3 separate regions of the Homo sapiens genome follow, and regions 1 and 2 are each linked to region 3. Evidence: fine-mapped expression QTL. A gene starts in region 3. Each other region holds a variant in brackets. All regions are shown on one strand. Distances are from middle to middle.

Evidence for each region. PIP is the estimated chance that this variant, and not a neighbour inherited with it, causes the effect.
Region 1: its variant is the best candidate, but not a certain one, in a credible set for the expression of RPL36 in whole blood (INTERVAL, PIP 0.51).
Region 2: its variant is the best candidate, but not a certain one, in a credible set for the expression of RPL36 in fibroblasts (GTEx, PIP 0.71).

Annotation. Positions count from the first base shown.
Region 1 is chr19:5,648,655-5,655,996 of GRCh38, forward strand. It overlaps SAFB (scaffold attachment factor B), which reads left to right. Exons shown (of 21, transcript NM_001201338.2): 7 at 335-845; 8 at 1,272-1,321; 9 at 2,324-2,418; 10 at 4,461-4,610; 11 at 4,684-4,766; 12 at 5,407-5,546; 13 at 5,714-5,802. Among named protein-coding and RNA genes, the nearest start is that of MICOS13, 28 kb to the right of the region's middle. RefSeq lists an enhancer at 1-1,019. The variant G/T (reference allele first, on the strand shown) is at 3,907.
Region 2 is chr19:5,548,401-5,555,742 of GRCh38, forward strand. No RefSeq gene overlaps it. Among named protein-coding and RNA genes, the nearest start is that of TINCR, 16 kb to the right of the region's middle. The variant T/A (reference allele first, on the strand shown) is at 4,372.
Region 3 is chr19:5,686,074-5,693,058 of GRCh38, forward strand. It overlaps RPL36 (ribosomal protein L36), which reads left to right and starts at 4,222. Exons shown (of 4, transcript NM_033643.3): 1 at 4,222-4,254; 2 at 4,433-4,527; 3 at 5,246-5,380; 4 at 5,459-5,802. The coding sequence starts at 4,435. The coding sequence ends at 5,548. It overlaps HSD11B1L (hydroxysteroid 11-beta dehydrogenase 1 like), which reads left to right. Exons shown (of 8, transcript NM_198706.3): 4 at 343-454; 5 at 827-918; 6 at 1,209-1,302; 7 at 1,430-1,595; 8 at 1,680-2,449. The coding sequence ends at 1,872. LONP1 (lon peptidase 1, mitochondrial) reads right to left here. Exons shown (of 18, transcript NM_004793.4): 18 at 5,761-6,135. The coding sequence ends at 5,959. RefSeq lists silencers at 686-945, 1,016-1,165, 1,406-1,465, 5,284-5,333 and enhancers at 1,643-2,142, 3,894-3,943, 3,999-4,524, 4,525-5,050, 5,051-5,576 and 2 more.

The DNA.
Region 1 (7,342 bases), 37 kb before region 3:
TCAGTTAAGCAACTTGGACTTTGGAAGCTAAATTTGGAAGAGTCATATCTAAACGACGACAGAATGAAGACTGTCAAGAATCAGCCAGAAGGTTTTGGGGGTTAAATCTCTGGGATGCTTTTCTCTTCCGTGTAGCGTAGAGGCTTACCTAGAGGCGGTCGCGGCGCAGGTAGTGTAACCAGTATAACTTTGTGTACCCGCGGGTTTTCCAATCTCTGTGTAGCTAGCAGTTCTCTTCGTGTTAGTGTGGCAGCCGTGCCAGTTCCACATTTGTGATTGCTTTATTTCCCTGGTAATTAAACCTTGTGCCATTCTATTCCTGTTAAATCCGTAGAAAATGAGAAAATACTCGACATTTTGGGGGAAACTTGTAAATCTGAGCCAGTAAAAGAAGAAAGTTCCGAGCTGGAGCAGCCATTTGCACAGGACACAAGTAGCGTGGGGCCAGACAGAAAGCTTGCGGAGGAAGAGGACCTATTTGACAGCGCCCATCCGGAAGAGGGTGATTTAGATTTGGCCAGCGAGTCAACAGCACACGCTCAGTCGAGCAAGGCAGACAGCCTGTTAGCGGTAGTGAAAAGGGAGCCCGCGGAGCAGCCAGGCGATGGCGAGAGGACGGACTGTGAGCCTGTAGGGCTAGAGCCGGCAGTTGAGCAGAGTAGTGCGGCCTCCGAGCTCGCGGAGGCCTCTAGCGAGGAGCTCGCAGAAGCACCCACGGAAGCCCCAAGCCCAGAAGCCAGAGATAGCAAAGAAGACGGGAGGAAGTTTGATTTTGACGCTTGTAATGAAGTCCCTCCGGCTCCTAAAGAGTCCTCAACCAGTGAGGGCGCTGATCAGAAAATGAGGTTTGTTTTTTCTCAGTTTTAGACCAGACGCTATCTCCTTTTCATTGGTCATGTAATGACACACATAAGCTGTTTTTTTCTGCAATTGGCCAGCCAGACTGACGAAATTGTAGTTTTGCTTCTAAAGAATGTTTCGTTTCTCTTTGTGTGTTTTTAATGGGTGATTCAATTCCTTTTCTTTTTCTCAACCTACCATGGTTGTGTTCTTAAATTCTTCCTAATTACCTTTAGCCCAGCAGAATTAATTAACTCCTGTGGGTCTGAAATCTTATGGTTAGGTCAGATTTTCAATACAAGTTTGTCGGGGTATCATTTTTTCAGAACTAAATTTCGGGTAGGTATGCAACCTCAGCACGAATTTTATGGTTTTGAGTTTGTTTCCTCCATGCTGCTTCCTTGTGGAGTGACATTGTCTTTTGTCTCTAGTTCTCCCGAAGATGACTCGGATACAAAAAGGCTTTCCAAAGAGGAAAAGGGTAGGTCACCTCGGCGACACCAGTCCCTTGGAGCATGTATGGCCTGGGCAGTGGCGGGTATTTGATTCTGGTTCATCGCGTGCTATGCTCCTTACCCAGGAGACTCCTGAGACGTTTGTGCAGTCTTTCTCCTTCTCTGCTGTTACCGCTACAGGTTCTGGGTTGTAGGAAGCATACCAGGTCCTAAGAGTTAACAGGCTGATTTGGTGCAGATCCTTGTGTTGGGAGCACATTCATCCTGTAACCCTTCATTAAATGCATTAACTGAGAAATAATTTTACCCTACCAAATTCCTTCTTAATCAGTGTTCTAAAGGAGTAAAAACATGGGATAGATACAGAGCTATACGTGGAAAGAGAAACAGTGCATTGTTGACACCAAGGTTGACTGTTCTGCTACATGGCCGTTGCACACTGCACTTCCTCCTGTAATTAAGCGATCGCTAACTTTTTTTGAGACAGAGTCTTGTTCTGTTGCCCAGGCTGGAGTGCAGTGGCGCGATCTCAGCTCACTGCAACCTCTGACTCCCGGGTTCTAGAGATTCTCCTGCCTCAGCCTCCTGAGTAGCTGGGATTATAAGCGCCCGCCACCACACCCAGCTGATTTTTTGTATTTTTAGTAGACATGGGGTTTCACCATGTTGGCCAGGCTGGTCTCGAACTCTTGACCTCGTGATTCGCCCACCTCAGCCTCCCAAAGTGCTGGGATTACAGGCGTGAGCCACCACACCCGGCCCGCAATTGCTAACTTTCTTAGGAAACCTCACATTGTCCCAATAGCCCCACTCAGTATTGTGACGGGCCCTGTGGTAGTGCTGCTGGGCCTGGTGTTGCACTGGAGGCTCTTGGTGAGGATAGTGGTCAGGCCCACAGCCCCATTTGGCTTTTAGTGCTGCCACTGCCTCAGGAAAAATGGGAACCATGTCTCTTTTGGAAAGGTTGTCTCTAAGACTCAAGATCTTGTGGGTATTTGGGTTTTTACTAGAATTTTCTTTTGAAATAGGTCGCAGCAGTTGTGGTAGAAATTTCTGGGTTAGTGGACTCTCTTCTACAACCAGAGCTACAGATTTGAAGAATCTTTTCAGCAAATATGGGAAGGTAAGTGCCAGAGCTTTTCTGGAGAAGATACTTTGAAACCAGCGTTGTGTGGCCTTTACATGGAGGTCCTCTCCCCTCAGTGAGTTCTTTGAGAGATACCAAGGAGCTTACACTTGCTAATGGCTGGGGAGGGTCTGCCCGTCCACAGGTAGAGGTGAGAGTGGTGTGGAAGCTTCCAGAGCCCACATCACCACTGTATTTCCCTCCCTTCTCTGCGAGCTTGCCCCCTTCCCTGTGATGGCTCGTGGATCCATTTCTGTGTCCTCAGGACGTCGCACTCAGGCTGGGCTGCCAGGGTTGGCTGGTGGGGTGCTGGTCAGCATGTCTGGGAGACAGCAGTGTTCTTAGAACAGTGTTCGTGATGCTGGAACTCAGAACTCAGAACAGGGACCCTGGAGTCTGATGATAGGGGTCCTCACCACGGGTGTCTTGGGTCCATTGACTGAACCTCACCTCAGCAGCTGGGGGCTCTCAAAGTTGCTGCCTCAGTTCACCACTGGGGGCAGTTCTAGTGGCCTCTTGTCTGCAGCACCTGCCTTTCCTGAGCCCGTGAAGGTGGGGCTGGTGGCACCAGCCCCCTACCTGCAGTGCCCAGCGCAGCCGCCTGGCCCTCCTCCCTGTGCTTTCTCACTCCCTTCCTCCCTGGTGTTTCCCAGACTTGCCTCCCAAACAGCCTCCTGCATTCAGGGCTCCTCGTCTCTCTCAGAGTCGGTTTCGGGGACTACCAAAGGAAGGAGTCCAATCCTTTGTGTTACACAGTGAGGGTTCAACACATTGCAATATAGAAAACCAAGTGTTTTCCCTGATACTGACTTCGAAGAACTTAAAAGAGGATAAAACAGGCTGGGTGTGGTGGCTCACGCCTGTAATTCCAGCACTTTGGGAGGCCGAGGTGGGTGGATCACGAGGTCAGGAGTTTGAGACCAGCTTGGCCAGTATGGTGAAGCCTGTCTCTGCTAAAAGTACAGAAATTAGCCGGGCGTGGTGGCGCATGCCTGTAATCCCAGGTACTTGGGACGCTAAGGCAGGATAACAACTTGAACCCAGGAGGTGGAGGTTGCAGTGACCCGAGACCGTGCCACTGCACTCCAGCCTGGGACAGAGCAAGACTCCATCTTAAAAAAAGAAAAAAAAAAAGGATAAAACTAATTATGTCATTATTACGGACATAACTAAGGGCTTCTTGAGCCTCAGTGATACAAGGTGTGTGGCTGGCAACACCTGCGCCAAGTCTCCCCTACTAGACCCCCTTTCCTGACTCCATGGCGTCCCCCAGCGGGTGGGTGTGCTCAGTGGGGAAGTGTTGCCCTGGAGACTGTAGTGTCTTGAGCGCAGCAGGCCTGATGTGGGTTAATTAGAGGACCGGGCCTCTCTGAGAATGTCCTCTGGGACTAGGATTCCATGTGGCATGATGAGCATGATTACCAGCCTCGGCCACTGGCTGCTGCAGGGCTTTTCCTGAGCCATGGTGTCTTCTGCCGTCAAAGG[G/T]CGACCCTAACTGCATCCTGCTGGAGTCGAGAAAACCAGGTAGACTGGAAAGGATGTGTCTACAGTAACTGAAACACATCACTGCGTTTTGTTACAGTCAATGATAGGGCAGATCTGAGTTCCAGAGCACGGCTCACAGACCTTTCCTTGCATCAGTCTGTGCCGAAGTCTTTTTTTTTTCTTTTTTCTTTTTTTGCCCACATTACATCACTTCATAATTTACCACCTACGTAGCATGACTGTATATTTGGAATCATTTCTTCACAAGTTTTAGACCATATTAAAGGAACACTGGCAGAACCCTGTTTGATTTCCCTTTCGTCTGTTCCCCTACATTGCCCTCCTGGCCCCCTTGAGGAACTAGATGAGCGATTAGAACTGGCCAGAGGTCCTTGGAGGAACAACAGCGAAACAGAAGCATTAGTAGCATTGTCCTCCCCAGTCTAACACTTGTCGGACCCCTGATGAGCAGACTTCCCTGTGGGGTGTTCATATCCCCATGCCCCGCTCAGTGGGCTTCATGTCTGAGTCATATTTGCCTGCTTTCCTTTGAGGTGGTGGGCGCCAAGGTTGTGACAAATGCCCGGAGTCCTGGAGCTCGCTGTTACGGTTTTGTCACGATGTCCACAGCAGAAGAGGCCACAAAATGCATTAACCACCTGCACAAGACGGAGCTCCACGGAAAGATGATCTCCGTGGAGAAAGTGAGTGGCCGTTTTCTTCCCAGGATATAGCCCACATTAGGAAATGGGGGTAATACTTGATTCTCTTTTTCAGGCCAAAAATGAACCTGTGGGAAAGAAAACCTCTGACAAAAGAGACAGTGACGGGAAAAAGGAGAAGTCGAGCAACAGTGACAGGTACCCCTCCTTCCTGGCTAAATTAAAGGGGCAGGGTGTTTTTTGTTGTTGTTGTTTTGTTTTTGAGATGGAGTCGCGCTCTGTCGCCCAGACTGGAGTGCAGTGGTGTGATCTCGGCTCACCTCAACTCCACCTCCTGGGTTCAAGCAATTCTCCTGCCTCAGCCTCCTGAGTATCTGGGACTAAGGTGTGCACCACCACACCCGGCTAATTTTTGTATTTTCAGTAGAGATGGGGTTTCACCATATTGGCCAGGCTGGTCTTGAACTCCTGACCTTGTGATCCGCCTGCCTCGGCCTCCCAAAGTGCTCGGATTACAGGCGTGAGCCACCATGCCTGGCCGGGGCAGGGTGTTTTAAACAGAATCTCACTCTGTTGCCCAGGCTGGTGTGCAGTGGCAAGATCTCTTTTCATTGAACCTCCACCTCCCTGGCTCAACCAATTCTCATGCCTCAGCCTCCCGATTTGCTTGGATTATAGCCATGCCCATTTGTGGTTTTAGTAGAGATGGGGTTTCACCATGTTGGCCAGGCTGGTCTCGAACTCCCGGTCTCATGTGATCCGCCCGCCTCATCCCCCCAAAGTGCTGGGAATACAGGCATGAGCCACCACGCCCAGCCAACATGTCTGTTTTTTATAGATCTACAAACCTTAAGAGGGATGATAAATGTGACAGAAAAGATGATGCTAAGAAGGGTGACGACGGAAGTGGAGAAAAGAGTAAGGACCAAGATGATCAGAAACCTGGCCCCTCAGAGCGATCTCGAGCCACAAAGTCAGGTGGGCAGCTCATGAGCCCAGGAGATTCTGTCTTGTTTCTGTGCCTAGTGGAGTTTGTTAGTTTGCTGTGATTAGCTGGCAACGGAAACTGGATTCATGTTGCAGAGGGTTTTTCTCATCTGGGTATTCTTGGTTTTCCACTTACACTTTCCCCGTCTTTTCTGTAGGAAGTCGAGGGACCGAACGGACTGTAGTAATGGATAAATCCAAAGGGGTGCCTGTGATTAGTGTAAAAACGTCCGGGTCCAAAGAGAGAGTGAGTATTAATTTTCTAACTAGGGTATTTTGCTCTTCTTTTCAGTTTGTATTTCTGTGTGCGTCTTAGGGAATTACTAAGCTTCATTTGAAAAAAGCTTTTGTCGGCCGTTTCGAAAATGTAGAAATCTCAAACTATTTTTTTTGAGACAGGTTCTCACTCTGTTGCCCAGACTAGAGTGCAGTGGTGCGATCTTGGCTCACTCCAACCTCCGCCTCCCAGGCTCAAGCGATTCTCCTGCCTCAGCCTCCCGAGTAGCTGGGATTACAGGCGCACACCATTATCTTTTTAGTAGAAACAAGGTTTCACCATGTTGGCCAGGCTGGCCTCGAACTCCTCACCTCAGGTGATCCGCCCGCCTCGGCCTCCCAAAAGTGCTGGGATTACAGGCATGAGCCACTGCGCCCAGCCTCAAATTATTTTAAGAAATGCAGAAAGCTTTCCTTTATCCTTACTTTTGCTCTGATAACTGTTAACTTATTTTCTAAAGCTAACTTTAAAATTTACATATGGGACTGTTGGCTTTTCCCTGAGTCGGTGTGTGGCAGTCCACGTTCCCTGTCTACCCTGAAAGTGTCAGCACCTCCCCGTGATGCATTCCTACACCCAGCAGTGTGGAGCATGCCATGGTGACCTGGCCCATCTCGCCAGCCTCCCTCTAGCCTGCTCTCCACCTTGACCCCTTCCTGTACTCTTATCTTCTTGCTGGGCTGCAGTGTGAGCTGAGCATGGTGGCTCATGCCTGTAATCCCAGCAGTTTGGTATGCTGAGCTGGGAGGATACTTGAGCCCAGGAGATGGATACCACCTTGGGCAACATAGTAAGACCCCATCTTCACAAGAAATTTAAAAATTAGGCAGGCTCGGTGGTATGCATCTGTGGTCCCAGCTACTCAAAAGGCTGAGGTGGGAGAATGCCACTTAAACCTGGGAGGTCAAGACTGTAGTGAGCCACGTTCATTGCACTGCACTCTAGCCTGGGAGAGAGAGTGAGACCCCATCTCAAAAAAAAAAAAAAAAAAAAACACACACCTATTATTTGCATGGTCTGTGCACACCGAGCCACCCTTACTGGTTAACTGTCAACTGGGGACACTCTGAGAGCCAACTTCCCAGTTGCCAGCCAAGGACCAATCTTGGCAGCAGCCCCTCCTTAAGGAAGGAGAGGGACCTTGGACCCGCCTGGTCAACCCTCAGCTGCACGGAGGAGGAACCATTTCACTTGGTGAATGGAGCGGATTGCTTAGGAGCTTTCAGTCTCTGTGTGCCAGTATTATAATATGTCATAGCCTTTTACCCTTGTTCTATAAAACACCTTTGGAAAACGGAAAAAGGAAAGTGTGGGTTCTAGGGATAAAATGAGAAGGTCTCTTAACAATGTCATTGGCACAAATAAGGTACTTGTCAAGTGTACCGGAAGTGCTTCATTTGGGAACTCATTGTGTGTTTAATTATTGAAGGAAAAAGGAAAATTAAGAAATTTATTTTTGAAGCAAAAGACATAAAAAATTGGTGTTTTGATCTTATATGAAGTTTTCGGG
Region 2 (7,342 bases), 140 kb before region 3:
TGGGACCACAGGTGTGCAACACCATACCAGGCTAATTTTTGTAGTTTTTATAGAGACAGGGTTTCACTATGTTGCCCGGGCTGGTCTTGAACTCCTGAGCTCCAGTGATGCCTGCCTTGGCCTCCCAAATTACTGGGATTAAAGGCGTGAGCTACAGCATTTATTAGATACCTACTGTCAGGCCTCTGAGCCCAGGCCAGGCCATCGCATCCCCTGTGACTGGCACGTATACATCCAGATGGCCTGAAGTAACTGAAGATCCACAAAAGAAGTAAAAACAGCCTTAACTGATGACATTCCACCATTGTGATTTGTTCCTGCCCCACCCTAACTGATCAATGTACTTTGTAGTCTCCCCCACCCTTAAGAAGGTTCTTTGTAATTCTCCCCACCCTTGAGAATGTACTTTGTGAGATCCACCCCTGCCCACCAGAGAGCAACCCCCTTTGACTGTAATTTTCCATTACCTTCCCAAATCCTATAAAACGGCCCCACCCGTATCTCCCTTCGCTGACTCTCTTTTCGGACTCAGCCGGCCTGCACCCAGGTGAAATAAACAGCCATGCTTCTCACACAAAGCCTGTTTGGTGGTCTCTTCACACAGACGCGCATGAAATTTGGTGCCGTGACTCGGATCGGGGGACCTCCCTTGGGAGGTCAATCCCCTGTCCTCCTGCTCTTTGCTCCGTGAGAAAGATCCACCTACCACCTCAGGTCCTCAGTCCAACCAGCCCAGGAAACATCCCACCAATTTCAAATCCGGTAAGCGGCCTCTTTTTACTCTCTTCTCCAACCTCCCTCACTATCCCTCAACCTCTTTCTCCTTTCAATCTTGGCGCCACATTTCAATCTCTCCCTTCTCTTAATTTCAATTCCTTTCATTTTCTGGTAGAGACAAAAGAGACATGTTTTATCCGTGAACCCAAAACTCCGGCGCCGGTCACGGACTGGGAAGGCAGCCTTCCCTTGGTGTTTAATCATTGCAGGGACGCCTCTCTGATTATACACTCACGTTTCAAGGGTGTCAGACCACGCAGGGACGCCCGCCTTGGTCCTTCACCCTTAGTGGCAAGTCCCGCTTTCCTGGGGCAGGGGCAAGTACCCCTCAACCCCTTCTCCTTCACCCTCAGTGGCAAGTCCCGCTTTCCTAGGGGGCAAGAAACCCCCAATCGCTTATTTCCGCACCCCAACCTCTTATATCTCTGCACCCCAATCCCTTATTTCCACACCCTGACCTCTTTGTGCCCCAATCCCTTACTTCCGTGCCCCAACCCCTTCTCTGCTTTTCTGGAGGGCGAGAACCCCCCACCCCTTCTCCGTGTCTCTACTCTTTTTTCTGGGCTTGCCTCCTTCACTATGGGTAAGCTTCCACCTTCCATTCCTCCTCCTTCTCCTTTAGCCTGTGTTCTCAAAAACTTAAAACCTCTTCAACTCACACCTGACCTAAAACCTAAATGCCTTATTTTCTTCTGCAATGCCGCTTGACTCCAATACAAGCTCGACAGTAGTTCCAAATAGCCGGAAAACGGCACTTTCAATTTTTCCATCCTACAAGATCTAAATAATTCTTGTCGTAAAATGGGCAAATGGTCTGAGGTGCCTGAAGTCCATCAGTCCCTTCCTACTCTCTGTGCCCAGTGCAACTCGTCCCAAATCTTCCTTCTTTCCCTCCCACCTGTCCCCTCAGTCCCAACCCCAAGCGTCGCTGAGTCTTTCTCATCTTCCTTTTCTACAGACCCATCTGACCTCTCCCCTCCTCGCCAGCCCAAGCTAAGTCCCAATTCTTCCTCAGCCTCTGCTCCTGCATCCTGTCATTTTTTTATCGCCTCCCCTCCTCACACCTGGTCCGGCTTACAGTTTCGTTCCGTGACTAGCCCTCCCCCTCCTGCCCAGCAATTTACTCTTAAAAAGGTGGCTGGAGCCAAAGGCATAGTCGAGGTTAATGCTCCTTTTTCTTTATCCCAAATCAGAAGCGTTTAGGCTCTTTTTCATCAAATATAAAAACCCAGCCCAGTTCATGACTTGTTTGGCAGTAACCCTGAGACACTTTACAGCCCTAGACCCTAAAAAGTCAAAAGGCCGTCTTATTCTCAAAATATATTTTATTACCCAATCTGCTCCCGACATTAAATAAAACTCCAAAAATTAAATTCCGGCCCTCAAACCCCACAACAGGACTTAATGAACCTCGCCTTCAAGGTGTACAATAATAGAAAAAAGTTGCAATTCCTTGCCTCCACTGTGAGACAAACCCCAGCCACATCTCCAGCACACAAGAACTTCCAAATGCCTGAACCGCAGCGGCCAGGCGTTCCTCCAGAACCTCCTCCCCCAGGAGCTTGCTACACGTGCCGGAAATCTGGCCACTGGGCCAAGGAATGCCCGCTGCCCGGGATTCCTCCTAAGCCGCGTCCCATCTGTGTGGGACCCCACTGAAAATCGGACTGTTCAACTCACCTGGCAGCCACTCCCAGAGCCCCTGGAACTCTGGCCCAAGGCTCTCTGACTGACTCCTTCCCAGATCTTCTCGGCTTAGCGGCTGAAGACTGACGCTGCCCGATCGCCTCGGAAGCCCCGTAGACCATCACGGACGCCGAGCTTCGGGTAACTCTCACAGTGGAAGGTAAGTCCGTCCCCTTCTTAATCAATACGGAGGCTACCCACTCCACATTATCTTCTTTTCAAGGGCCTGTTTCCCTTGCCTCCATAACTGTTGTGGGTATTGACGGCCAGGCTTCAAAACCCCTGAAAACTCCCCCACTCTGGTGCCAACTTAGACAACACTCTTTTATGCACTCTTTTTTAGTTATCCCCACCTGCCCAGTTCCCTTATTAGGCCGAGATACTTTAACCAAATTATCTGCTTCCCTGACTATTCCTGGACTACAGCCGCATCTCATTGCCGCCCTTCTCCCCAGCCCAAAGCTTCCTTCACGTCTTCCTCTCGTATCCCCCCACCTTAAGCCACAAGTATGGGACATCTCTACTCCTTCCCTGGCAACTGATCACATGCCCATTACCATCCCATTAAAACCTAATCACCCTTACCCCGCTCAACGCCAATATCCCATCCCACAGCATGCTTTAAAAGGATTAAAGCCTGTTATCACTCGCCTGCTATAGCATGGGCTTCTAAAACCTATAAACTCTCCTTACAATTCCCCCATTTTACCTGTCCGAAAACCGGATAAGTCTTACAGATTAGTTCAGGATCTGCGTCTTATCAACCAAATTGTTTTGCCATCCACCCTGTGGTGCCCAACCCGTACCCTCTTTTGTCCTCAATCCGTTCCTCCACAACTCACTATTCTGTTCTCCATCTTAAAGATGCTTTTTTCACTGTTCCCCTGCACCCCTCGTCCCAGCCTCTCTTTGCTTTCACTTAGACTGACCCTGACACCCATTAGGCTCAGCAAATTACCAAGGCTGTACTGCTGCAAAGCTTCACAGACAGCCCCCATTACTTCAATCAAGCACAAATTTCTTCCTCATCTGTTACCTATCTCGGCATAATTCTCAAAAACACACGTGCTTTCCCTGCCAATCGTGTCCGACTGACCTCTCAAACCCCAGCACCTACAAAACAACAACTCCTTTCCTTCCTAGGCATGGTTAGCGTGGTCGGAATTCTTACACAAGAGCCAGGACCACACCCTGTAGCCTTTCTGTCCAAACAACTTGACCTTACTGTTTTAACCTAGCCCTCATGTCTGCGTGCAGCGGCTGCTGCTGCTTTAATACTTTTAGAGGCCCTCAAAATCACAAACTTTATCAGTCCTCCAGGCCCAAGTTGACTCTTTAGCTGCAGTTGTCCTCCAAAACCACCGAGGCCTTGACTGACTTACTGCTGAAAAAGGAGGACTCTGCATATTCTTAAATGAGGAGTGTTGTTTTTACCTAAATCAATCTGGCCTGGTGTATGACAACATAAAAAAACTCAAGGATAGAGCCCAAAAACTTGCCAACCAAGAAAGTAATTACGCTGAACCCCCTTGGGCACTCTCTAATTGGATGTCCTGGGCCCTCCCAATTCTTAGTCCTTTAATACCCATTTTTCTCCTCCTTTTCTTCAGACCTTCTATCTTCCGTTTAGCTTCTCAGTTCATTGAAAACCGTATCCAGGCCATCACCAATCATTCTATACGACAAATGTTTCTTCTAACATCCCCACAATATCACCCCTTACCACAAGACCTCCCTTCAGCTTAATCTCTCCCACTCTAGGTTCCCACGCCGCCCCTAATCCCGCTCGAAGCAGCCCTGAGAAACATCGCCCGTTCTCTCTCCATACCACCCCCCAAAAATTTTCGCCGCTGCAACACTTCAACACTATTTTGTTTTATTTGTCTTATTAATATAAGAAGGCAGGAA[T/A]GTCAGGCCTCTGAGCCCAGGCCAGGTCATCGCATCCCCTGTGACTTGCACGTATACATCCAGATGGCCTGAAGTAACTGCAGATCCACAAAAGAAGTAAAAACAGCCTTAACTGGTGATATTCCACCATTGTGATTTGTTCCTGCCCCACCCTAACTGATCAATGTACTTTGTAGTCTCCCCCACCCTTAAGAAGGTTCTTTGTAATTCTCCCCACTCTTGAGAATGTACTTTGTGAGATCCACCCCTGCCCACCAGAGAACAACCCCCTTTGACTGTAATTTTCCATTACCTTCCCAAATCCTATAAAACGGCCCCACCCCTATCTCCCTTCGCTGACTCTCTTTTCGGACTCAGCCGGCCTGCACCCAGGTGAAATAAACAGCCATGCTGCTCACACAAAGCCTGTTTGGTGGTCTCTTCACATGGACACGCATGAAACCTACTGTGTACTTTGCTTTCTTTGCTCTTGGTGATTCCCCAAAAAACTTATCTCAACATATAAGGATTTTTCTTTTCTTTTTTTTTTTTTGTTTGAGACGGAGTCTCGCTCTGTCGCCCAGGCTGGAGTACAGCGGCGCGATCTCGGCTCACTGCAAGCTCCGCCTCCCGGGTTCACGCCATTCTCCTGCCTCAGCCTCCGGAGTAGCTGGGACTACAGGCGCCCGCTGCCACGCCCGGCTAATTTTTTTGTATTTTTAGTAGAGATGGGTTTCACCGTGTTAGCCATAATGGTCTCAATCTCCTGACCTCATGATCCGCCTGCCTTGGCCTCCCAAAGTGCTGGGATTACAGGCGTGAGCCACCGCGCCCGGCTGTTTTTTTTTTTTTTTACTTGCCTTTTTCCAAATGAGAAAACCAAGGCTCAGAGAGGTCAGTGGTGCAATCTCGGCTCACAGCAACTTCCGCCTCCCGGGTTCAAGGGATTCTAGTGCCTCAGCCTCCCAAGTACCTGGGATCACAGGCATCCGCCATCACACCCAGCTAATTTTTGTATTTTTAGTAGAGACAGGGTTTCGCCATGTTGTCCAGGCTGGTCTCGAGCTCATGACCTCAGGTGATCCGCCCACCTTGGCATCCCAAACTGCTGGGGTAGGATTTTCTTTTTTACTTCCCTTTTTCCAAATGAGAAAACCAAGGCTCAGAGAGGAAGAGCGTGTTGCCCCAAGTGGCCCAGCAGAGCCACAGCCTTGCCCCCAGCAGCTCTGGCTCTAATGCATTCCAGACTCCTCCCATCAGCCAACTGCCTCCCATCCTCTAATAAACTTCTGAGAAGCGCTGGGCAGATGCAGTGGCGCCCACGCTCTTTATCTGCCCAGATCAGGCCGGCTCAGCAGAGCAGTCGATAATTAATTCTGAATTCTCCCCATTTATCACGGCGGCAGGAGCCAGAGTGCCTGGAATCCCAATCCCAAACCTCCGTGCCCCTTGGTCACCTGGACCAAGGCCCAGTGGTGGCAGGAACTATGGTGGAGAGGGGGCCTCATTGAGCCTGGGAAGGGAGCAAAGGTGTTCCTGGCTCCCCACCGCTCCCTGGCGCTGGGTTATTAAACGCTGTGTACTGCAGCAGTGACCAAACCAGACCTCTTCCCCGTCTTCATGGTGCCCACAGGCTAGTGGGGAAAACATACATTGAATGAATAATAATATAAATAATTAATGCTACAAAGGAAAAGAACAAGATGTTGTGAGAATACAAAACAACAGGAACATAACTTGTTTTGGGGGCCTCCCCAAGGAAGTGACATTGAACCTGCAAATCACAGGGTGAAAGGTGAAAGGTTGGGAGAGGGTATTTCATATACAGAAATAGCCCATGCAGGCTGGGTGCGGTGGCTCACAGCACTTTGGGAGGCCAAGGCGGGCGGATCACCTGAGGTCAGGAGTTGAAGACCAGCCTGGCCAACATGGTGAAACCCCGTCTCTACTAAAAATACAAAAATTAGCAGGGCATGGCGATGTGTGCCTGTAGTCCCAGCTACTCAGGAGGCTGAGACAGGATTCTCACCTCCTGGTTCGCTTGAACCCAGGAGGTGGAGGTTGCAGTGAGCTAAGATAGCGCCATTGCACTCCAGCCTGGGCAACAGAGCTAGACTCTGTCTCAAAAAAAGAAAAAAAAGAAAGAAAAGAAAAGAAATAGCCTGTGAAAAAAACCTTGTGGCTGGAGCCCAGCAAGGGGTTTAGTAGGTCTGAAGCTTAAAGCACAAGTGTGAGGTCAGTGCCAAGTCAGGGGACCTCAGGGCCAGGCCTGGAGCCCTCATAGTGAGGCCAGCAGCCTTCAGTGGATAGCCAGGGGCCACCAAGGAAAGAGATGGATAAGTTTCCGTGATGCTCCAAGGGGTGGTAGTGAGGCTGCTTCTGCCCCAGGTGCATCACCCTGCAAGGTCAGTGGTCGGCTCTGTGTTGTTTTTTTTTTTTTTTTTTGGTTTGTTTGTTTTTGAGACGGAGTCTCGCTCTGTTGCCAGGCTGGAGTGCGGTGGCGTGATCTTGGCTCACTGCAACCTCCGCCTCTCGGGTTCAAGCAATTCTGCCTCAGCCTCCCAAGTAGCTAGGACTACAGGCGCCTGCCACCACGCCTGGCTAATTTTTATATTTTTAGTAGAGACAGGGTTTAACCATGTCGGCCAGAATAGTCTCGATCTCTTGACTTCGTGATCTGCCCGCCTCAGCCTCCCAAAGTGCTGGGATTACAGGAGTGAGCCACTGCGCCTGGCCGGGTTTTTTTTTCTTTCTTATGACTGTTTTCCTTTTTGAGGGTTCTTTCAAATCCATTTGGGCACGGGGGTTAGTCAGGATTTGTCTGCCAGCAAACACCGAATGCCTGGCTATCCCAAACACTTCCCTTCTTGGGCAGGCAGGGAAACTGAGGCCCAGCGAGGGACAAAGAACACCCAAGGTCATTCAGAGGAAGGTTGTGTGTGGGAGAGGTTTCTGGGGAGTCTCAGGGGCCATGCGCTTGCCCTGCAGCTTC
Region 3 (6,985 bases):
GCAACAAGCAGTCCATTGCTACTTCAAGGAAGGGTATGGCTCTTGGGCACAAACCTTTCAATATTTCAAGAGAAGCTAGCAATCAGGAAATTGTAGATGAAATGTCCTGTTTTAGATGTTGGTGATTGACTAACCACCAAATTGGCCAGCATTCTGGCCCGCGGGCCTCCACTTTGCGCCCCTCAAGCAGTGGTAAATTTTTGGGAATGATGTTGAATGGGTCCCGAGGCTCAGAGTAGGGGGGGGTTTTCAGGCGGGGGCCTCCCTATGGCCAGCAGGTGCGGTGGAGGGGGAAGCGCTGCTGTAGAGGAGAGGCCCACGGGCAGCTCTGGCCCCCCCCAGGTGGTAGGGAACTGCCGGAAGCTGGGCGCCCCCAAGGTCTTCTACATCGCGGCGGACATGGCCTCCCCTGAGGCGCCCGAGAGCGTGGTGCAGTTTGCGCTGGACAAGCTGGGTGAGGGGCTGGGCCTGAAGCCTGGAGTCCGGGACCGTGGCCTAGGCCTTAGGGACAGGACCAGAATTGGGCTGTGGGTGTGGCCACAGTAACAGGTGTCTCAGGGCGGAGACAAATGGGGACTGGGGGCGTGGGCGGGGTGGAGTCTCATTGCGTCTGGGGGAAGAGCTCTGAACGGGGCCTCGTTGAATGGGAACCAAACCTTGCTAGATCCAGGGTGTAAGGCCAAGGCTGGGTGTCTTTGATCGTAGTGGGAGTTACCTGGGGCGGAGCTCGCTGGACCAGCGCTCTGGGTGGAGCTAAGCTCGGGGGCGGGGTTTGATCGTTTCCTTGGGGAGGGGCCTCCGGGGCTGACCGGCGTTTCTGGGCCAGGCGGGCTGGACTACCTCGTGCTGAACCACATCGGCGGCGCCCCGGCCGGCACGCGAGCCCGCAGCCCCCAGGCAACTCGCTGGCTCATGCAGGTGCTCCGCTCCTCCGCGGCCCCGGCCCGCCCCTCTATCTCAGGGACCGGTGGTCCGTTCCCTTCGCGGTCCGGGTTCTGCCTTCTCCAGGGAGGGCTCTCCACCCGTCCCGCCCCAGCCACGCCCCTCCTAGCCCAAGCCCCTGCTCCGGCCTTGACCCCGCCCTCGGACCCGCCTTCCGGGTTTCTGGCCCCGTCTCTGACCCGGCCCTGGCCCCGCCCTCTGGGTTTCTGGCCCCGCCCTGCCCCTGGGCTCCGCCTCTGCCGGTGACTCGCGAGTGCCGCCTGCAGGTAAACTTTGTGAGCTACGTGCAACTGACGTCGCGGGCGCTGCCCAGCCTGACGGACAGCAAGGGCTCCCTGGTGGTGGTGTCCTCGCTGCTCGGTGCGTGCACCCGGCCCCGGCTCTGCGGGACGGGGAGTGGGGAGCTCGATGCGGGTGAGCCTGGAGGGTCTGGGCAGGCTTCCCGGACGAGGGGGAGCCACTCAGCCGCTGCCGTCCGCGCCCCCAGGCCGCGTGCCCACGTCGTTCTCCACTCCCTACTCGGCGGCCAAGTTTGCGCTGGACGGCTTCTTCGGCTCCCTGCGGCGGGAGCTGGACGTGCAGGACGTGAACGTGGCCATCACCATGTGCGTCCTGGGCCTCCGAGATCGCGCCTCCGCCGCCGAGGCAGTCAGGTGAGGCCCGGACAAGCTGGGGGCTGGGCTGGGGGCCATGGCCCAGCCCCAGCCGCAGTCCCCACCGTGCCCTCCTGTCCCCAGGGGAGTCACGAGGGTCAAGGCGGCCCCGGGGCCCAAGGCAGCCCTGGCCGTGATCCGCGGCGGCGCCACGCGCGCGGCCGGCGTCTTCTACCCGTGGCGTTTCCGCCTGCTGTGCTTGCTCCGGCGCTGGCTACCGCGCCCGCGGGCCTGGTTTATCCGCCAGGAGCTCAACGTCACGGCCGCGGCAGCCTGAGCACCGGGGGGTGCCCCTCCAGTCCCAGACGGCAATGTTCCTCCCTCCAACTGTCCCTGGAGCCAGAACACTCACAGAGACACCCCTGAGAGGGTGGCCACAGCCCAAGATGAAGTCATCAAGACAGAAAAGCAAAACCGAGAAAAACGACGGGCACCTGGAACCAGTCACGGCTTGGGAGGTGCAGGTGCCCCGTGTTAGGCGCCTTTGTCGGGGACTTGCAAGGCCTCACCTGTTTGGCCATGATTGATGACGTGACTGCTTCCATTTTGCAGATGAGGAAACTAAGGCTCAGAGAGGCCACGCCACCCTTGAGCCACCCATGGACCCCTCTCCATCTCCTGCCTGCGCCTTTAAGTCCCTGATTTATTCTTTCCATTCATTCCATCTGGGAGGAACCCCCCCAACTCCTGCCAGCTTCCCCTAGCTGGGGTCTCTGGTACTCTTCACACCTGCAGGGGCGTCTACACTGTTCGTCTACCTGGTGGCAGGGTCTGAGCGGGAGGAGGAGGGAAAGAGTGTGTTCTGAGCTGGACCCAGCCTCTTGTTCGAGAATAAAAACTCTTCTTCTCTTGCATATCTGTTGTTCAAATTCCTTGGTAATTCCAATTTGCTAGCAGCCAGCGGGCAGCGGGAGGGGGTGTGTGTATCAGGGGCCTTGACTCTCAATCCCATTTCACAGGTGGGGAAATGGAGGCTGAGAGGGCCAGGAGCAGTGGCTCACGCCTATAATCCCAGCACTTTGAGAGGTCAAGGTGGGCAGATCACTTGAGGTCAGGAGTTTGAGACCAGCCTGGCCAACATGGTGAAACCCTGTCTTTATTTATTTATTTATTAGACGGAGTCTCACTCTATCGCCCAGGCTGGAGTGCAGTGGTGCGATCTAGGCTCACTGCAACCTCTGCCTCCGGGGTTCAAGCGATTCTTGTGCCTCAGCCTCCCAAATAGTTCAGATTACAGGTGTGGGTCACAACGCCTGACTTTTTGTATTTTTAGTAGAGACGGGGTTTTACCATGTCGGCCAGGCTGGTCTCGAACTCCTAGCCTTAGGTGATCCCCCTGTCTCGGCCTCTCAAAGTGCTGGGATTACAGGTGTCAGCCACTGCACCCGGCCACAAACAAATATTTTAATTAAAAAATTAGCCAGGCGTGGTGGCATGTGCCTGTGGTCCCAGCTAAGGAGGCTAAGGCAGGAGGATCACTTGAGCCCTGGAAGTCAAGGCTACAATAAGCTATGATTACAGCAGTGCACTCTAGCCTGGGCGACAGAGCAAGACCCTGTCTGGAAAAAACATGAAAGCGCTAACCCTAATTAGAGCAGCCCTAAATTGAGACTCTCTTCTTGTATATTAGTAGCATTAAAGGAGAAAAACTGGAAACTTGTGTGTTTCTGCCACCCGATTCAGTTATTTAGCGTCCCGTCCCTACACCACCTAAATTACATCAGATGTCCGCAAGGGGCACTATTACACGTTGCTGTATTCAGACCTAGTCTAGAGCTTGACCAATTGATAACAAAACCAATACCTTTTTTTTTAAATGGAGTTTCGCTCTGTCGCCCAGGCTGGAGTGCAGTGGTGCGATCTCGGCTCACTGCAACCTCTGCCTCTTGGGCTCAAGCAATTCTCCTGCCTCAGCCTCCTGCGTAGCTGGGATTACAGGAGCATGCCACCACGCCTGGCTATTTATTTATTTATTTATTTATTTATTTATTTATTGAGACGGAGTCTTGCTCTGTCGCCCAGGCTGGAGTGCAGTGGCACGATCTCGGCTCACTGCAAGCTCTGCCTCCTGGGTTCACGCCATTCTCCTGCCTCGGCCTCCCGAGTAGCTGGGACTACAGGTGCCCACCACCACGCCTGGCTAATTTTTTGTATTTTTAGTAGAGACGGGGTTTCACCGTATTAGGCTGGTCTCGAGCTCCTGACCTCGTGATCCACATGCCTCGACCTCCCAAAGTGCTGAGATTACAGGCGTGAGCCACCGCGCCCGGCCTAATGGGCGTTTTAACAGTTCATACAGTTTGGTATTATTATTCCCGCTCTACAAGTGAAGAAATTCTGAGAGGTGATGTCGTCGATGCAGGGTCGGCCCGAAATAGGCGGAGTTGGGATTCGAACTCATTTCACAGGCAGAGGGAGGAGAGCAGCCATAGCCACCTCCACTGGTTCCGACTCCAGCTCCCGGGCTCGCAGGAGTAAACGCGCATGCTCAGGGAGCTCGGTCGCGCATGCTCAGCGCAACGGCGGGGAAGACTCCAGCCGCCAGGGGGAGCGCGTGCCGTTCTTGCCTCTCTGGCCTGCGCCTCCTGAGCCGAGTAGATATCCCGGAGTTCCGCGCGGCGCCAGCCCTTCCGCCACGGCCGTCTCTGGAGAGCAGCAGGTAAGTGGTTTCCCGCACTGCCGGTATCCGCCGCCATCCGGACTCCCGGGTCCTCTGTGCAGGTTGGAGGATGGTTGGTTGTGGCGAGCGAGGCTGAAGGAGCCGGGACGCGGGGCTCTGGGCCTCGGGAACTGAGCCGGTACTCACCTCCGCCCCTTCTCCCCGTCGCTGTCCGCAGCCATGGCCCTACGCTACCCTATGGCCGTGGGCCTCAACAAGGGCCACAAAGTGACCAAGAACGTGAGCAAGCCCAGGCACAGCCGACGCCGCGGGGTGAGTGCGGGTGCCGCGCGGAGGTTGTCGGGGGTTTCTTGGAGGGCGGAGGGCATGGCTTGGGCAAAGGCTCTCGACCTGAAAGAACGCGCGTTCGGGCGCAGAACTAAGGGGGGCTTGAATGGAAGAGATGGGGTGGGGGAGTGGGACTTCCTGCCTGGTGCTCGAAGGCGGGCACCCATCTGGGTTTTTCCCAACCGTGCAATCCACGCTGGGGCAGAGGGAGCACCTTGAGAGCGGCGCGGGGCAGCGGGTTTGGGGTTCTGACGCAGGAGTAGGAGTTCGCTCATGGAGCTGGCCCGAGGTTGCGGTGTGTGAGGTTGAGGGATTTCAGGTGTGTCAGTGTATTGGGCGCCTTTATTAAGCGGGCAGCGGGTTTGGGGTTCTGACGCAGGAGTAAGGAGTTCGCTCATGGAGCTGGCCCGAGGTTGCGGTGTGTGAGGTTGAGGGATTTCAGGTGTGTCAGTGTATTGGGCGCCTTTATTCAGCAGGCAGCCCAGACTCCAGGTGCGTCCTGCCAGTGTTGCGGAGACTGGGACTTAGGGAGGATGGGAGCTGCTCCGGGCGCGGCGAAAAGCGCTAGGCGTTAATACCTTGGTTCTCACAGCTACCCACAGAGGGGAGGAAGTAGCCAGGGAAATCGCGGCAGCGCGAGAGAAGCTGCTTAACTAGAATGCAGGGATCCCCCTACCCTGACGGCCGCCCCTTTCCCCCCTAGCGTCTGACCAAACACACCAAGTTCGTGCGGGACATGATTCGGGAGGTGTGTGGCTTTGCCCCGTACGAGCGGCGCGCCATGGAGTTACTGAAGGTCTCCAAGGACAAACGGGCCCTCAAATTTATCAAGAAAAGGGTAGGTGGGCGCTGCCGGCCGAGGGGCGGGGTGGGATGGGAGTCAGGGCCGGGCTGACGGCGGCCTCGTCCCTGGCAGGTGGGGACGCACATCCGCGCCAAGAGGAAGCGGGAGGAGCTGAGCAACGTACTGGCCGCCATGAGGAAAGCTGCTGCCAAGAAAGACTGAGCCCCTCCCCTGCCCTCTCCCTGAAATAAAGAACAGCTTGACAGAAGCCCTGGCTCTCCTGCTGTCCGTGGGTGGGTGTGGGTGTGTCGGGGGCCCGCAGTCCCCTGTCTGGTGCCCGCTCTGAGCCACACCCTCTCCGGGTGCTGCCTGGTCGTGAATCAAAAGCCGTGGCCCGCCCACCCTTCCCGGGGCAGCAGGTGAGGAAGCCGCCGTACTGCAAATGACTTTAATCATTAAATAGCTTCTATGCCACACTCTGATTAAGCCGACTGAGGTCCCTGGGATCTGGGTCACTGGACCGAGCTGCTCGCTCGGTGGCTCCACTGCCAGGTCCGGGCGCGCTCCCCACAGCGCTCAGTTCTGGCCCAGACAGGGCCTGACATCCGCCGCCTGCAGTCCCGGGGTGGCCGTCACCGTTCCACGGCCAGCGCCTCTGCCTGCTCGTCCGGGAAGGCGATGTCGAAGATCTCCCGGTAGTGTTCCACGAAGTGCACCTCCAGGCCCTCGGTGATGAAGGCTGCCAGGTCGTAGAAGTCCTTCTTGTTCTCGGCTGGCAGGACGATGCACGTCACCCCTGCGCGCTTGGCCTGGGGGCAGAGTCAGGGTCAGCCCTGCCTGGGCCTGTGGGAGGGCAGCAGGTGTGCTAACCTCCAGGAACGAAAGGGCTTCCTGGGGACCGGCGATACACAGTGATGCCGGGTTCTAAGCAGTAAGTCCCAAAACCCACCAGGGTCCCCGTCTCCCACGGGGAAACAGGCTCAAGGCAAAACCACTGGCCTTGGCTCCAACAGCCTGAGAGCAGGAGCCAGGGCCTCCCCACCCCCTTATCTAGGAAGTCTGGCCGTGCGGTGGGAGCAGTCTCAGGGCTCTGGATGAGCCACACACCCACGGCCTCACATCCAGAGGTCAGGCAGTGTCTGGGGCCTGAACAGGGTTCCTGTGAGCATCTGCATCTCTGCCCCCAGGCCCTGCGTCACCCCCCTCACCTCCGGAGGCTACACATATCTGGAGTAGATGCCAGGCACAGCCCCACCACAGCCCCTTGAAAGGACAGCAGTTCCCACTGTCACCGCACACTGACTCCATGGACAGTGAGCCTCCCAATTTGCCTCCACCATTTTATCATCTAGGAAGTCTGTGCCTGGTGTCCAATTCAAGGTGGTCACAGCCACTTGACCATGCCTCCCTCGTGGTGGCATCTCCTGACTGACTGCACCAGGCTTCCTAGACACATGGCAAGTGTGGTCCAGTCTGGGGACAGGCAGGGATGGGAGGGAAGAGTGGGGACAGTGGCGCTCCAACCTGCTCAGCACCCTTGGAAGAGGCCAGCCCCTGGCCAGGGGCTCCAAACACCCCCGCCACCAGTAATCCTAAACGTCGTCCCCATCTCTAGCCTCTCCCTTGGCGCTGGGCTGCCTGGGAAGAGAAGCAGGAGCC